Linked DNA regions of Homo sapiens: region 1 is linked to region 2. Evidence: fine-mapped expression QTL. Tissue or cell type: amygdala. Region 2 holds a variant in brackets; the other region holds the start of a gene. All regions are shown on one strand. Distances are between the middles of the regions.

Region 1 (8,104 bases), 300 kb before region 2:
AAGGAAGGAATATAGAATTGCCAAGACTTCTTTTCGCTAAATGTAGACACCCGAATTTTCTACCTTTCACTAAAGAACACATTCCACCTTGCTGAACCTTTTAAAAGGTCAACAGCCACTTTGACAGCGTTTATTTGTTTCAGTCTTTTCTGTGGCCCTCTTTTCAAGGTTCGTTTCTCTGATTTCCTAGTAGTATACTTATTTCATGGGAAACATTTCTTTCAGAGAAGCACAAAGCCTCTTCTAAACCCTTCCTCATTCATGTTAGAGTCTGTTAGCTAGATTTCCCACTAGTTTAAAATTTTATTTTAGTTTTAGATTTCCCATGATCTGTTATACTTTAATTTAGAATATATACATATTCCAAAATATACTTGGAGTATGGGAGGTGGGGAGAGAGAGGGGGAAAGGAGGGGAGAGAGAGGGGGAAAGGAAGGGAGAGGGACACAGAGGAGAAAATGGGACAAGGAGAGAGAGGGTGAGCGAGAAAGGGAAAGGGGAATAAAGAAGGAGAGGGAGATTTGTTTTGTAACTTCTATGTTAGCTTTGCTTCTTTGGAGTTTATCCCTCTTTTTTTTTCGAGACAGAATCTCACTCTGTTGCCCAGGCTACAGTGCAGTGGCACAATCTTGGCTCACTGCAACCTCCACCTCCCAGGTTCAAGCAATTCTCCTGTCTCAGACTCCTGAGTACCTGGGATTACAGGTGCCTGCCACCACGCCCAGCTAATTTTCGTATTTTTAGTAGAGACAGTGTTTCACCATGTTGGCCAGGCTGGTCTCGAACTCCTGACCTCAGGGGATCCACTCGCCTCAGCCTCCCAAAGTGCTGGGATTATAGGCGTAAGCCACCGTGCCCGGCCAGAGCCTACTTCTTTTTTTTTTTTTTTTTTTTTTTTTAGACGGGAGTTTCGCTCTTGTTGCCCAGGCTGAAGTGCAATGGCAAGATCTCGACTCACCGCAACCTCCGTTTCCCGAGTTCAAGCAATTCTCCTGCCTCAGCCTCCCAAGTAGCTGGACTGTGCCGGCCCAGAGCCTACTTCTTAAAGGTGTTTCAAAGGACTCATACTTGTTCTTAGTTTCAAATATTGTTTACTATTTGTATATTGCATTTCTAAAGCATTTTATACTTAGAGTAATAACTGTACTTTAGCCTTCTCTTCTTCATCTCCAAATATTTGTGTATTACAGAAGAGAAGAACTCCAATACATCGTGTTCTTTGTTAGAGATTTGAAATCTCATAGCCTAAAATTTTCCTCCTTGCAGCAATCACACACGGTAAAAAAGTCTGTTATAACATGGCGAGTCTGTAACATGTGGGTCCCTCGCAGCCTATAAAGTTTATTTATTACTCCCCCTCCTTCCACTGGAGCCTTCCTAATACTTAGGGTGAGGAATGTGGATGGGTTGGCCAAGATATGGAAGAACTGGGGAGAACTATACATGTGCCTACATGTATGAAAACATTTATGCTCATGTCAATTAAATGCATTATGATTAAAGTGATTTGCACATCCAGGATCCAAACAGGAAACAGGATGAGTAATGACGGGACAAACTCTGGACCATTGATACAAATACAGTAATTGAACCTAAAGAAAACAAGATCGGCCGGGTACTGTGGCTCACGTCTGTAATCTCAGCAGTCTGGGGGGCCGAGGTAGGCGGATCACTTGAGGTCAGGAATTCGAGGCCAGCCTGGCCAACATGGTGAAACCCCGTCTCTACTAAAAATACAAAAATTAGCTGGGCGTGGTGGTAGGCATCTGTAATCCCAGCTACTGGGGAGGCTGGGGCAGGAGAATTGCTTGAACCTGGGAGGTGGAGGTTGCAGTGAGCCAAGATTGCGCCACTGCACTCCAGCCTGGGCGACAGAGCAAGACTACGTCTTGAAAGAAAGAAAAAAAGAAACAAGATTTTCGTAAGAGCAGCAGATGAAAATTGCCAAAATTTACACATTTTTGTCCAAGAGTTAAGTATGAACAGATTAAGAGAAGTACAAAGTTTAGAGAAATTTAAAAACCTTTTAGAAAACCGTATATTGGACTCTAACATGAATGAAGAGTTTCAAAACATATTTTAGATGAAGGTTTTCGCTGTCTAAAAAGATTTGGCAGAAAATAAGCATATTGCCATAAAAGCAGAGAATCCAACTTTGACGATAAGGTCACTGAAAAGACTTAAAACAACTTTCATGGGTAAGTTACATAACTTCTCTGCCTCAGTTTACTCTTACATACATGTGATGTGACATAATGCACTTAGTGGACACACAGCATGCAATCACTATTAGCCATTCTGATGTCTTCTCCTCTGTGGCAAGTCAGGCAACGAGCAATAACACTTGTGTTTCCCTTACCCTCAATTATGAGAAGATATTCCAAGACCTCCAGAAAGCTTTTTGGTATTAGAAGCTGCTCTGAAGAGTTGGGTAGAAGAGGAGACTGGCTCTACTCTTTGAGCAAACAAGGTGTAGACAGCTCGGGGCCAAACTTAAGGGCTCCACCACGAAGGAAAGAGTGCTTCTGACAGTTACTTTGGAACTTGAGTATGTTTTTTTCTTATAAGCATAGTGGCAAAATAACTGAGAGTTACGCAACGAAATGCCTTAGGTGCCCAGTGGTGCTCACACCCTGATGCCGATCTCACACCCTGATGCCGATCTCACACCAGGGAAGCCTTTGAATGCTGAGGGTTAGTAACACCTTCCACTACATTCCAGAGTGGGAGAATGCTGGCCACACTTGCCAAAGCTGCAGTACAAGTTTAAAACAACCAACAAAAACAAAAGCCAAAATCACTTTTCTTTAGGAATGAGGTCAGCACTCTTTTGCACACTCGTTTGTGGGGAGTTAAATATTTGGTGAAGAAAAGGCAGCCTGCCCGCAGGCAAAGCTAGAGATTTCGGCCAGTGGGCATATCTTTCCAAACCCTTGCTACTCCTCTCGATTATTTTCTGCGACATAACACCACTCCACCCCTTGCTGCCTTTCTCTAACTACTTTCTGAAGGCCGTGCCTTTGGGGAAGTGGTTACAAATAAATGGTGTTTGCGCCAAAAGCTAGAGGTTCCTCCAGCTACACGGCAAACCGAAGGAAGCAGTCAGGACATTGAGAGGCACTACACAATGACAACAAACATTGCCAGCGACTGCTGAGCCCCTCCCCCGCGCCAGCCTCAGCCCAGAGAATGCAGGCCCGGGGCTGGCTCGCCGCGGGCCAAACACGGACGCAGCTTGCGCCGGGGGCATCCCGAGCAGAGGCATCCCTCGGTGCCAGGCAGCCGCGGGCCCTCTCCGGGCATCTCCCACCCGGAGTGCTGGGCCAGTGCCCAATAGGAAGCCCCGCGGGGGAACTTTCGCCACTCTTCTGCCACATAAACAAGTCGGGCTCAAGACCGTCCAATGACTGGGCAGGGCGGCGAAACACACTTGGAAGTCCTGGCAGCTTCCCGGACTCGACTGAGTTTAACACTCTAGGAGGAGAGGAACCCAGGGCGGATGCTTCACTCGCCCCCCTTGGCCAGCCCCTTTACCCAGGGCCGAGGATGTTACAAATACGGGCAAATTCTCGCTCCGGCAATCTTTTCCCCGCTGCCTTCCCCTCCTCATCTGCAGCCTGGAAGCAAGTTCAGCAAAAGGCTGAGGCGAAAGTGTTTCCGCGCCCCCGATCGCGCAGGCTCGGTCCACAGGGGCGACTTTCCGGGGCGCGTGGGCTGCAGCGGCCCGACTGCGCGGCGCTCCGGCATCGCGCCCGGGCTCAAGTTTCTGGGTCTTGGAGGCCCCTCCAGTGCGTCCTAGCCAGTCGCCGCAAAGAGTTAACCAAGTGGGGCCGGCCCCGCTCCGCCGCCCCCAGCAGCGCGTCTCCACCGCGCACCCCCGGCCCCGCGCTCGCGGCGATCCTCCTGAACCGCAGCTCTGTCCCGCCCCAGAGCCAGCCAGCCTCCCTCCCGCCCAGCCGACTTGGCTTCCCGCGCGCTCCTCACCGCACTCCTCCGGGCCCCGCGATCCTCCAGCACTTCCTCAGCTGGAAGGGGCTTCACGGAGGACCCTCTGCCCCCGCCGTTCTCCCCGCTTTCCTCCCCGCACCCCCCCAGGAGGTGCCAGTACCGATGCCCTGGATGAAGACGAAGCCGGTGACCATGAGCACTGGGTGCCAGTTAAACTCTAGTGCGCTCCCATCCCAGCCAAGCCCCTCTCGGTAGTGGAGGACCCAGACGAGGGCGAAGATCACCGACAGGAAGCCGACGAGCAGTGCCGACCCCAGCAGCGCCAGGAAGCGCCAGTAGCCCTCCATGGCCATCAGCGCCCCATACTCCGCACCGCGGGGGCCACAAGAACTTGGAGAGGCGGCGGCAGCCCTCTGGGTAGTGGCCGGGCGGCGGGACCGGGGCGTCGACTTCTTGGGGCTGTCTCCGCCTGCGGGGAGGGACTTTCTGGGCTGCTGGCCCGGAATGTGGGGCCTCTTGGGGGTGGGGAGCTGGCCCCAACTCAGAAATGGGCCCCACCCCCGGGATCACGCGGCCGCCGAGGGCGCTCATTGCCTGGTGGCCTCACCCTCTCCCTCGTCCAGCATCCAAGCTCGCAGAGGGCTTCAGTAACAGACCTAGTTAGTTGCTCAAAGAGAAAATTCCGAGGATTTTATACTCACCACTTGCTTTTAACACTTCCCGTGTCTCGTCCTTATTTGTGGGGAGGTTGAGTAGGGCAGTGGTGCGCCCTCTTGGTTAAGAGAAGAGAGGGATCCGTTGGGTAGGGTTATGTGTGTGCTTTTAACTACTAACGAAGCCTCCTTAGCCACAGTGCTGGAGAATTGGCTGTCTCTGACATCAAAGGGTGTTAAGGAGGAACCTGTAAGGTGGTGTAAACTAAAAATAAAATCCTAAGCCCCTCACTGACTGAATGGACCTCCTTGGCCAAGCAGACCCCAGAAAAACCTTAAAGCTGAGTTTCTAGCTACAGCCGGAAGGGAAGTCTACCCCCTCCATTTTGGAATTTAGACTCAACAGCTGACTAGCATTAATGTTTAAAATAGAAATCATAAGGCGGACAGAACAGACTCTTTGTAGCAATAAGACATCAAATTATAAAAAGGACCTAAGTCACACACTCCTACACTTAAGAAATAAACTATGGTCTAACTGCCACAAAGGTTTTCTTTTCCTCTAGAGGCTAAACAAGCACTGGCTTGAGATAAGCAATATTAAAACAATTACAACTTAATCAGTTCACAGATGCTGACCAGCTGAACCCCTGTTGCACCAGCCAGAACTACAGCTTTCACTGGGCTGATTTCAGGAACTTTTTCATGATAAGAAGACCGACCATGGACCGGTTCTGGCCAGTGTACAGGGATTGTGCACTTGTATGCATTCACGTCCTGAAAAGACCTTTTGAAGTGTAGGTTTGAAGTAATACATTTAAATGTATTTGAAGTAATACAATTAAATGTTAAGTCTCCACCCCAAAGAGAACATGTTACATGCATGTTTGTTCAATATGCATGTGTAAGGACCACCTCCATTAATATTCATAGCTCCTCCTGTAACCTGTTACGTATGTATGTTTGGCCAAACTGTTCAGCATAAAGCTCCTACCCCAACCCCTCTGCCTTCCAAGTGCCTGTCTCTGGTCTTAGGCCAGAGGCTATGTTTATCAGCCTATGGAATGGCCTCCTTGCAGGCTATAACCTTTTATAAGAAATAAAGTCTCCTCTTTTTTCAAATTTATAATTTTTTGTTTTAAGTTAACAGTAAAGGCCAGGCGCAGTGCCTCACACCTGTAATCTTAGCACTTTGGGAGGCTAAGGCGGGCAGATCACTTGAGTCCAGGAGTTTGAGAACAGCCTGGGCAACAAGGTGAAACCCTGTCTCTACTGAAAATACAAATGCATGCACCTGTAGCCCCAGCTACTTGGGGGACTGAGGAAGGAGGATCACTTGAGCCCAGAAGGTCGAGGCTGCAGTGAGCTGAGGTTGCACCACTGCACTTCAGCTTGGGTGACAAAGTGAGACTCTGTCTCAAAAAAAAACAAAAAACAAAAAACAAAAAAAACCCAGTAAACCGGGTCCCCATGAGGTGTCTCACAGCTGTAATCCCAGGGCTTTGGGAGGTGGAGGCAAGAGAATCACTTGAGCTCAGGAGAGGTATGATCGCACCACTGCACTGCAGCCTGGTGACAGCTAGACTCTGTCTGGAAACAAAACAAAAACAGCATGGGCAGCGGTGGGCTTGGCCTTATCCTGCAATGAAACTACTTGCAGTTTGCTCTTGAGAGAGGGAAGACAGGAACCTCCTGGACCTGGACTTGCCGTTTAGTGTGACAAATGGATTTTCAAAGTGCCCGCCCACCCAAACCAATTTGAACCAAAGCCCCTCCTTGATGAAGTGAAGCTTGCTCCCTGCCCTCTTTCCAACATTATCCTCACCCTTCTCCACTGGACAAAAACAATGTCAGCATTATCTAATGCTATTATAAGAAAAAGGGTTCTGACTGCCAGGGCTTCCAGAATGCATTTGGGAACGTTCACTTCTAGCCCTCTTCTGTAGCTCATCTCCAAGGACTACTTTGCTATATTGTCTTGTTGCCGTCTTGAAAGACCTTAGAATGTGCAGGAAGTATACGGGGATGATTTTCAAAGCAGGCTAAGGAAATAGGAGTGGCAAGCCATGGTAGTAGGGCAGGATTAAGGGCTCAGAGTAAAAGGCTGTAGACCTCACCTGTGTCATTATTTTTCCCTTGGTGGGGAGAGTAAGCAAATGGAAGAGAAGGATACCTTTCCCCAGCACAAGGCTTTCTTTGATCTGGTCCAGCCTAGCACCCCCTGCCAGTCTCTTACCACAACCTGACTGGCCCTGATGTCCTTGGCTGTAAACTGCTCTGGCAGCTTCTGACCACTTCCTACCCACGCCACTGCCTCTAAATTTCCCTGACCCCCATCTCCACTGAGAAACCTTCCCTGAGTCTGCCCCTGCCCAGACTTTTATATCCCACTGACCTCCCCATCCAGTGCCTCCTTGTGTCACCTGTCAGGATGTAATATAAGGATCTGCTTCTCTGGCTGTCTCCACTCTCAGACTGCCCTATTGAAGGCATTGATTCTCTAATTGATCATTTTATTCCTCCTTGGGATGTGGTAGTTACTCAATAAACATGTGTTGGGAGGCTAATGAGACTGAGTGTGTTAATCAGGGTCCTGGCAGAAAACAAACAGCATATTGGAATTGAGTAATTTCATAATGAACAAGACTGTTTATGAAGTTGTGGGCAGTGTAGGAAACCTCAGGGTTAGGCAGTGCCCCAGGTCTGAAGGGCAGAGAATTACTGGAATCCAGAGAGAAAATTGTGCGGAGGGGGAAGTCCGATAGAGGCCTTGAGTACAGGGATGCAGCCAGCCTGCAGAGACCTCATAGGGAGAAAGATGGAAGCAGATAAATATTCCAGCCTTACTCTTCTCCCCTCTGATCTTCTGCCTAGGGTGTCCCAGGGGCTAACCAGAACCTAATCAGAAGCCACAGGGCAGTCCATGTATCCATCCCAGGTCAACTTAGGGCACAGAGCAGAAGAGAGAAGAGTGAGAGCGGATCCCTAGGAATAAAAGGAAACTATCCCTGAATCTTCCGGTTTTATTTTTTCAGACCTTTTTTTGGTTCCTGAGTGCTGCAAACATTGCCTGTTTCATCTTACACTGATTCTTTTCCTTTGCGAACTTTAGCTTGTAATTCTATAATGACATCATTGTATCCCTATCCCTCTCCCTAAAAGTATCTAGTCTTTGTCCTCAATTAATGTTTTCACCCCATTGACCTAACACCTTCACTCCACTCTTGAGTTAATTTTGCTTCATAGCAGCAGCAGATGAGAATCTCTGGGATTCCAGACCCCATTTAACAAAACATTTCGGGAGGATGAAAACATGGCCAAATGGTACCAATGGTGTTGAATCATCTTGAAGTTATATGTAAAACTGAGAGAATTTCAACTTTTAAATTATCTTTTAAGAACCTAACTTTGATATTAAATAAAACTGTCACTGAGAAGGGGAAATTTTTCAATAAACATTGTTGTGGCTTACTGTTAACCTTTTAATTAATTAATTAATTATT
Region 2 (8,104 bases):
ATGACTAGAAGAGTAGAATTGGAATGTTTCTAACACAAAGAAATGATAAATGCTTGAGGTGATGGATATCCAATTATCTTCATTTGATCATTACACATTATATGGTTGTATCAAAATTTCACATGTCCCCCATAAATATGTAAACTATTATGTAGCCATAAAGATTTAAAAAGACCACTTTGGGAGGCAGAGGGGGGTGGATCACTTGAGCCCAGGCATTCAAGACTAGCCTGAGCAACATGGCAAAACCCTGTCTCTACAAAATACAAAAAAAATTAGGCAGGCATGGTGATGTGCGCCTTTGGTTCTAGCTCCTGGGCAGGCTGAGATGGGAGGATGGCTTGAGCCTGGGGATGTCAACACTGCAGGGAGCTGTGATCGTCCCACTCCAGCCTCGGCAACAGAGCAAGACCCTGTCTCAAAAATAAATAAATAAATAAATAAAAAAGAATTAGGAAATAGTAGGTTTTGCTTAATTACAAATTTACCCTGAAATCCCAAAGACTTAACACCACAAAGGTTTCTTTCTAATTTGTGATGCATGTCTAGTGGGACTGGGGTTGTCTTCCCACATAGCCATTCACAGACCCAGGATAAGGGAGTCTACAGCATTTTATAGCTGGCTTGTAGGTTGCCATGAGAAAAGAAGGGAGAATTGAAGGATCATGCATCAGCATTTAAAAGCTTCACTCAAAAGGGACATATGTATTTTTTGTCAACAGCTAATTGGCCAGAACCAGTCACACAATCCTGACTGACTATAAGAGGCCTGGGAAATGTTGAGGAACGCATGGGTATTTGGTGAGCAGTAAATGTGTCCTCCAAAAAATTCATATGCTGACGCCCTAACCCCCCATGTGACTGTATTTGGATATGGTGACTTGAAGGAGGTAATAATGGTTAAATAAGGCCCAATAAGGGTAGGGCCCTAACCGGATAGGACTAGTGCTCTTATAAAAAGAGACAGAGACCCCAGAAATGTTTTTTTCCATGTGTACAGAGGAAAGGTCATGTGAGGACACAGTGAGAAGGTGGCTGTCTCCAAATCAGGAGGAAAGGTCCTAACAAAAACCAACCCTACTGGCACTTTGATCTTGGTTTCCAGCCCCTAGAACTGTGAGAAAATAAATGTGTGTTGTTTAAGTCACTCGTTAAGGCAGCCTGAGCTGAGAAATATGCATCAGCCACGAAGAGGAAGGGAAGACTAGAAAAATAGATCGGACCATATTGTAGAATGCTTTAAATTAATCCATGTTTAATTTTTAGGCAATGGAAAGCTTTGGATTTTTAAAAAATAGCTTATAAAGCAATGCATCATCTTCTTTCCTCCAAGGTGTTCATGAAGTTTCGGTGAGGTGCAGGGCAGTACCACAATAGGCACTCCTTTAAATGTTTGATTCATAAGGATTATTGAAGTCATACGCCGAGCATCCAGCTCTGACCCCAAATCTAGTTCTTTTTCATTTTTTTGTTCCTTACGCTGTCCTTTCAGGGTAGTTCCCCAGATGAAAAGTGGGCCACCGTTACCAGAAGAAAAGCAAATGGACAGTGTCTAAGTAATGATAACAGATATTCATTACACTTCCTGGTAAAAGAAAATAAAGGATAACTATGACAAAACCAGAAATGTGCTCTCTGCTCCCAGAAATGTGGAATGCTGTGTGCCACTCAAGTCCATTACTTATTCCTAGAGATTATTAACATATAAGCCCCAATTTTTCTCTGTGGAAATTTGTTTCTTAAATTTTTTGTAGAGACAGGGACTCACCAACTTGCCCAACCTGGTCTCAAACTCCTGGGCTCAAGCGATCCTCCCACCTTGGCTTCCCAAAGTGCTGGGATTACAGACGTGAGCCTGGCCTCTCTGTGGAAATTGTAAAAATATATAATTTTATTTAAATATGTGGGTAGGATGAGGAGGTTTTGTTTATTTGTTTAGGATAGGGTTTTTAGGGGGTGAGAGGGGCAATGAAGGAGGCTTGGTTTCTCCTTCTCCCACATCACTACCTGTATTACAAATCACCTTCCCAACTTAATGACTCAAAAAAAAAAACAAACACTATCTTCATAGTTGTATGGGTGAGGGGAAACTTGGCTGGCTAGTTGAGCAGTTCTAAGTCTGCAGTCCTCTAAAGGCTTGCTTGACGATCAAGGATCTACTTCCAAGGTGTCACACTCACATAATTGGCAAGTTGGTGCTGGTTGTTGGTGGGAGGCGATAGTCCTCCCCATGTGGGTCTCTCTATGAGGCTGCTTGAGTGTCCCCACATGATGGCTTACTCTCAGAGCAAGCTACCAAAGGCAGCAAGGCAGAAACCGTAACATCCTTTATGACTTTGTCTGGAAATCATACACTGTCACTTCTGCCATATTATGTTTGTCACACAGACAGCTCTCATTCCTTGTGGGAGCTGACTTCGAAAAGGCATGAATATCAAGAGGCAAATCACCAGGGCTCATCTTGAAGGCTGGCTGCCATGCTGCTCCCTTCATATTGATGATGTAGTACACATCTTTGGGAGGCTGAAGAATGGTCCCTAAAAGATAGCAGGGCCTAATTCCCAGAACCTGTAAATGTTATCTTACATGGAAATGTTATCTTATATGGAAAAAGGGTCTTTGCAGATTTAACTAAATTAAGGATATTGAAATGGAAATATTATTCTGAGTTGTCCAGGTATGCCCTAAATGCAATCAGAGTCTTTCAAAAAGAGTACAATGGACAGAATGTTTGTGTCCTCCCAAAATTCCTATGTTGAAACCCTAACCCCCAAAGCGATAATGTTGGGAGCTAGAGACTTTGGGAAGTAATTAGGTCATGAGGTTAGAGCACTCATGAATTAAATTAGTGCCCTTAAAAAAGGACCCCAGAGGCCAGGAGTGGTGGCTCACACCTGTAATCCCAGCACTTTGGGAAGCCGAGGTGGGCAGATCACTTGAGGTCAGGAGTTTGAGACTAGCCTGGCCAACATGGCAAAACCCTATTTCTACTAAAAATACAAAAATTAGCCAGATGTGGTGGCACGTGCCTTTAATTCCAGCTACTCAGGAGGCTGAGGCATGAGAATTTCTTGAACCCAGGAGATGGAGGTTGCAGGAAGCCAAGATGGCACCACTGCACTCCAGCCTGGGTGATAAAGCAAGACCCTGTCTCAAAAAAAAAAAAAAGGTGGGGGGAGGGACCCCAGAAAGCTCTCTTGACTCTTTCTGCCATGTGAAAATACAAGACATTGGCAGTCTGCAACCCAAAAGAGGGCCCTCACCAGAATGTGACCATGCTGTCACCCTAATGCTGGACTCCCAGCCTCCAGAACTATGAGAAATACATTTCTGTTGCTTATAAGCCACCCAGCCTATGGTATTTTGTTATAGCAGCCTGAACTAAGACAGAGAGAGACAGAGGGAGACTCGATTCACACAGAAGAGAAGGCAATGTGACCACAGAGGCAGAGATTAGAGTGATGCAGCCACAAGCCAAGGAATGCCAGCAGCCTCCATAATTTGAAAGAGGCAAGGAATGAACTCTCCTGGAGACTACAGAGGGTGTGCAGCCCTGCCAACACCTTGCTTTTGGCCTAGTGAAGCTGATTTCAAACTTCTGGTCTCCAGAACTGAAAGAAAACAATTTTATGGGGTTTTGTTTTGTTTTAATAATTGGAGACTGTTTATTTTACTTTTGATATGGTTAGGAGCAAGGCCTTTAGAGTCAAATCGTCCTGGATTTGAATCTATCATTGTGATCTTGGGCATATTCTTGCACCTTATTTTTCTCCAAAATGGGGCTAGAAAACAATACCTACCTCAAAGGTAAAGCTTTAAAAAATTGTGGGTTTTTTGGCAAAATACACAAAATATAAAATTTACTATGTGCTATGGTTTGAATGTTT[G/A]TGTTCCCTCCAAAATTTAGGTTGAAACTTAATGTCTAATGCAAGGGTATTAAGAGGTAGGGCCTTTAGGAGGTGATTAGTTAATGAGGACTCCTCTGTCATGAATGGGATTAAGGCTCCTACAAAAGAACTTCACACAGTATTTGCCCCCTTTTTGCACTTTTGCCTCTCCACATGAGGACACTAACATGAGGGTTAGTCCCCCCAGAGGATGCAGCAACAAGGTGCCATCTTGGAAGCAGAGAGCAGCCCTTGCCAGACATCAAACCTGCTGGCACCTTGATCTTGGACTTCCCAGCCCCCAAAACTGCGAGAAATAAATTTCCATTGTTTATAAATTACCCAGTCTCAGGTATTGTGTTATAGCAGCATAAATGAACTAAGACACCAACTTTTTAAGTGTATAGTACAGTAGTGTTAAGTACATTTTCATTGTTGTACAACCAGTCTCTTCCAGAACTCTTTTCATCTGGCAAAACTGAAACTTTATACCCATTAAACGACATTCTATTCCCCTCCATCTCTAGCCTATGGGCAACCACCATTCTACTTTCCGTCTCTATGAATTTGACTACTCTGTTTTTTTTTTGTTGTTGTTATTTGTTGTTGTTGTTGTTGTTTGTTTGTTTGTTATGCGATGGAGTCTCCCTCTGTCACCAGGCTGGAGTGCAGTGATGCAATCTCAGCTCACTGCAACCTCTGCCTCTGGGTTTAAGCAATTCTCCTGCCTCAACCTCCCGAGTAGCTGGAACTACAGGCATGTGCCACCACACCTGGCTAATTTTTTTGTATTTTTAGTATAGACAGGGTTTCACCATGTTAGCCAGGATGGTCTTGATCTCCTGACCTTGTGATCTGCCCGCCTCCGCCTCCCAAAGTGCTGGGATTACAGGCATGAACCACCATGCCCGGCCTTACTCTGTTGTTTTAATACACCAAGTTTGTAGCAATTTGTTATAGCAGCCATAGGAAACTAATACGGTATTCTTCCCCATCTTTGTCCATGTTCATACAACTTTAAATATTCATAAATGTACACAAACAATTTTAGTCACACATATATATGCAGAAATTTTTGTTATTGCTTTATAAAAATAAGACCATATTACACGTACTCTTCTTTGTTCTCTCTTTTCACTCAACTTGTTTATTGAATTTTGTTCAGAATAATCATTTCACTCTGACTTTGGGCAAACCTGTTTCAAAGTACCTTTATAAGCTTTCATTAGATGTTAATGTCTGAAGCATGTTCAGAGTGCTTTCTCTGCCATCTGACAGTGGTGTCCTCTCAATTATCCAAGCCCTCATGATCAGCTTTGGGAGTTGTGTTCCTCCCTCCTGCTGTCTGCTTTTCATACCCTTCTCCATTCATTAGCGCCTCCACCAGAGGGGGGCAAGGAAATGGAAAAGAGGTGAAATACGACTCCCAAACTGACAAAGAGATCAATGGAACAGGAGGGTCCAGAAACCAGTTCTCAAAATGGTCATTTTTCCTTATGTTAGGGATGCTGGAAGAAACTTCAGTAATAATACCTCCCAAGTTACCTGTGGATTTGAGAGGGAGAATGGTATCTACTGTCTACTCTTGATTTGTAAGTTCGTTTGTCCCATTTTTATTATAATCATTGCAAAAAGCAATCCCTTCATAAATGTTGGAAGAATTCATTCAATCAACAAACACTTATTAAGCATCTATAATGTGGCAGCAATCATGCCAGGCTCTGAATGAATGAATAACTCAGGTTTTTGTTTCTTTCCCTAACAAGTGGGACTCCTGTTCTGTGGCACTGCTGTTGGAAGGTAGGAGGTAACAGTGAAAAAGTAGGGAGGATAAATGCATCAGTTTGGTATCAGTTTCCTAGGGCTGCCGTAAAAAAGTGCTACACACTGAGTGGCTTAAAATAACAGAAATGTGTCGCCTTATACTTCTGTGGGTTAGAAGTCTGAAATCAAGGCAGGGCTGCATTCCCTCTGAATCTTATAGGAAAATTCTTCCTTGGCTCTTCCAGCTTCTGATGGTTCGCTGGCTGTCTTTGGCATGCCTTGTCTTGCAACTGCATAACTCCAATCTCTGCCTTTGTTGTTACATGACGTTTTCCCTGTGTATCTTTGTCTTTACATGGCTGTCTTTTAAGAACATCAGTTATATTGGATTGGGGGCCCACAGTACTCCAGTATGAGCTCATCTTAACTAATTACAACTATAATGGCCCTACTTCTAAATAAGGTCATATTCTAAGGTACTAGGGGTTACGACTCCAACATATGTTTTAGGGGGTGAGGAGGGACACAATTCAACCCATAATAGTTTCTACTTGTCAAATAGACAAGTCAAATAAGACCTTGGAATTCTGGATTTCATTAATCTCGTAAGTTGTTATTCTCTGTTTTTTTGTTTTGTTTTGTTTTTGAGACGGAGTCTTGCTCTGTCGCCCAGGCTGGAGTGCAGTGGCATGATCTCGGCTCACTGCAAGCTCCACCTCCCGGGTTCATGCCATTCTCCTGCCTCAGCCTCCCGAGTAGCTGGGACTACAGGCGCCCACCACCACACCCGGCTAATTTTTTGTATTTTTAGTAGAGACAGGGTTTCACCGTATTAGCCAGGATGGTCTCAATCTCCTGACCTCGTGATCTGCCCGCCTCGGCCTCCCAAAGTGCTGGGATTACAGGCGTGAGCCACTGCACCCGGCCCTTGTTTTTTTAAGGCAGCATAGTGGTTAGTGTGCAACTCTGGAGCCAGAATTAGTTTGAATACTATCTTTACCTCTTATTAACAGGTATGACCTTGGGCAAGTTAACTAATTCCTAGTGCCTCAGTTTGCTGTCTGTAAAATGGAGATAATAACAGAATTTACAGAATTGTTATAAGGATTAAGTGAACTAATGCCAGGAAAGTCCTTAGAACAACGCCTGGCACAAAGAGAATCTTGATATGTGTTAGCTAATTTTATGAAAAATGAGGAACCATGAGTTGATTATTCTTGTAATCAATTCCCACTAGAAAGGGGTGGTGGTGCGCATATTGTTAAAGGGAATAAAGCGTTCCACCGCGTGCATGTACCCGCTGGGGCCTCCTTCTAAGAGGAACCGAACTTCCGAGGAGTGGGCAGCTGCTCACTGCCTATGCTACTAAATTGCCTTTCTTGGCCTCTGACAGACTATAAAGTCAAGAGACTTCCAAAGCCCCCAGAGAAATATTTCTTCTTTTGGACAACCAACCTCTGAAAAACAATTGATTGAAATGTTTTCAAGGAAAATATATCACTATTAGGGAAGCCTATATATATAATTTAAATTTCCTTTGGTTCCTTTTGGATTTCAACTTAAAATGACCTGTAGGCTCTATCAGAGTAAGAGCAATACATCACCGTGCCTGTCTTGGACATTCTTAAAGCAGATTTGCTCTGCCTAGTGTGACCTAACTCCAGCCACAGCAGAGCCTGAATGCAGACTTGATTCCCTCAGATCGCTGAGGAAAAAGAGCATCACAACTGACAAGACTTGGAGAAGAGCACTCTGTTCTGTATTTGTGTTGGAAACTAAACACAATAAGCCATCCTCTTTCCTATGAAACTGAATGTTAGTGTCTTTATGTAGGTGGAGTGGAAGGTGAGGTGGAGAGGATACTGAAAGAGTTGAGAGAGAGAGTGGGCACGGCGGCTCACGCCTGTAATCCCAGCATTTTGGGAGGCTGAGGTGGGCAGATCACTTGAGCCCAGGCATTTGAGACTAGCCTGGGCAACATAGCAAGTGCCCGCCTCTACAAAAACTACAAAAATTAGCCAGGTGTGGTGTTGCCAACCTGTAGTCCCAGCTACTCGGGAGACTAAGATGGGAGGATTGCTTGAACCCAGGAGTTAGAGGTTACAATGGGCCATGATCATATGACTATACACCAGCCTGGGAGACAGAGCAAGGCCCCGTCTCAAAAAAAAAAAGAAAAGAGTTGAAAGAGAACATGATTGCAGGCGGAGTCAGGCTTCAGTTGCTGAATCAAGGCCCATTGTCTTGACTCACTTAAACATCACAGAATTCTTTAGCTGGAAGACCTTGAGGGGTTACTAATTCAGGAGTTGAAGCAAAGTATAGAAAGTAATTTGTTAGAAATAATAAAAGTGCAGCTTATGACTGATTGATTAATTACTAAATTCCAGGGGATTCTAAGTTCTTATCATACATTGGTCCTCAAAGTATGGTTCTTCCAAGACCAGCAACTT

The links. PIP is the estimated chance that this variant, and not a neighbour inherited with it, causes the effect.
Region 1: it holds the start of CYBRD1, and the variant in region 2 is fine-mapped to the expression of CYBRD1 in amygdala (GTEx, PIP above 0.99).

What each region holds. Positions count from the first base shown.
Region 1 is chr2:171,518,743-171,526,846 of GRCh38, reverse strand. CYBRD1 (cytochrome b reductase 1) reads right to left here and starts at 4,373. Exons shown (of 4, transcript NM_024843.4): 1 at 4,109-4,373. The coding sequence starts at 4,301. RefSeq lists silencers at 3,735-3,804, 3,955-4,064 and an enhancer at 4,175-4,284.
Region 2 is chr2:171,214,669-171,222,772 of GRCh38, reverse strand. It overlaps a transcript of TLK1 not described here. Among named protein-coding and RNA genes, the nearest start is that of TLK1, 58 kb to the right of the region's middle. The variant G/A (reference allele first, on the strand shown) is at 3,888.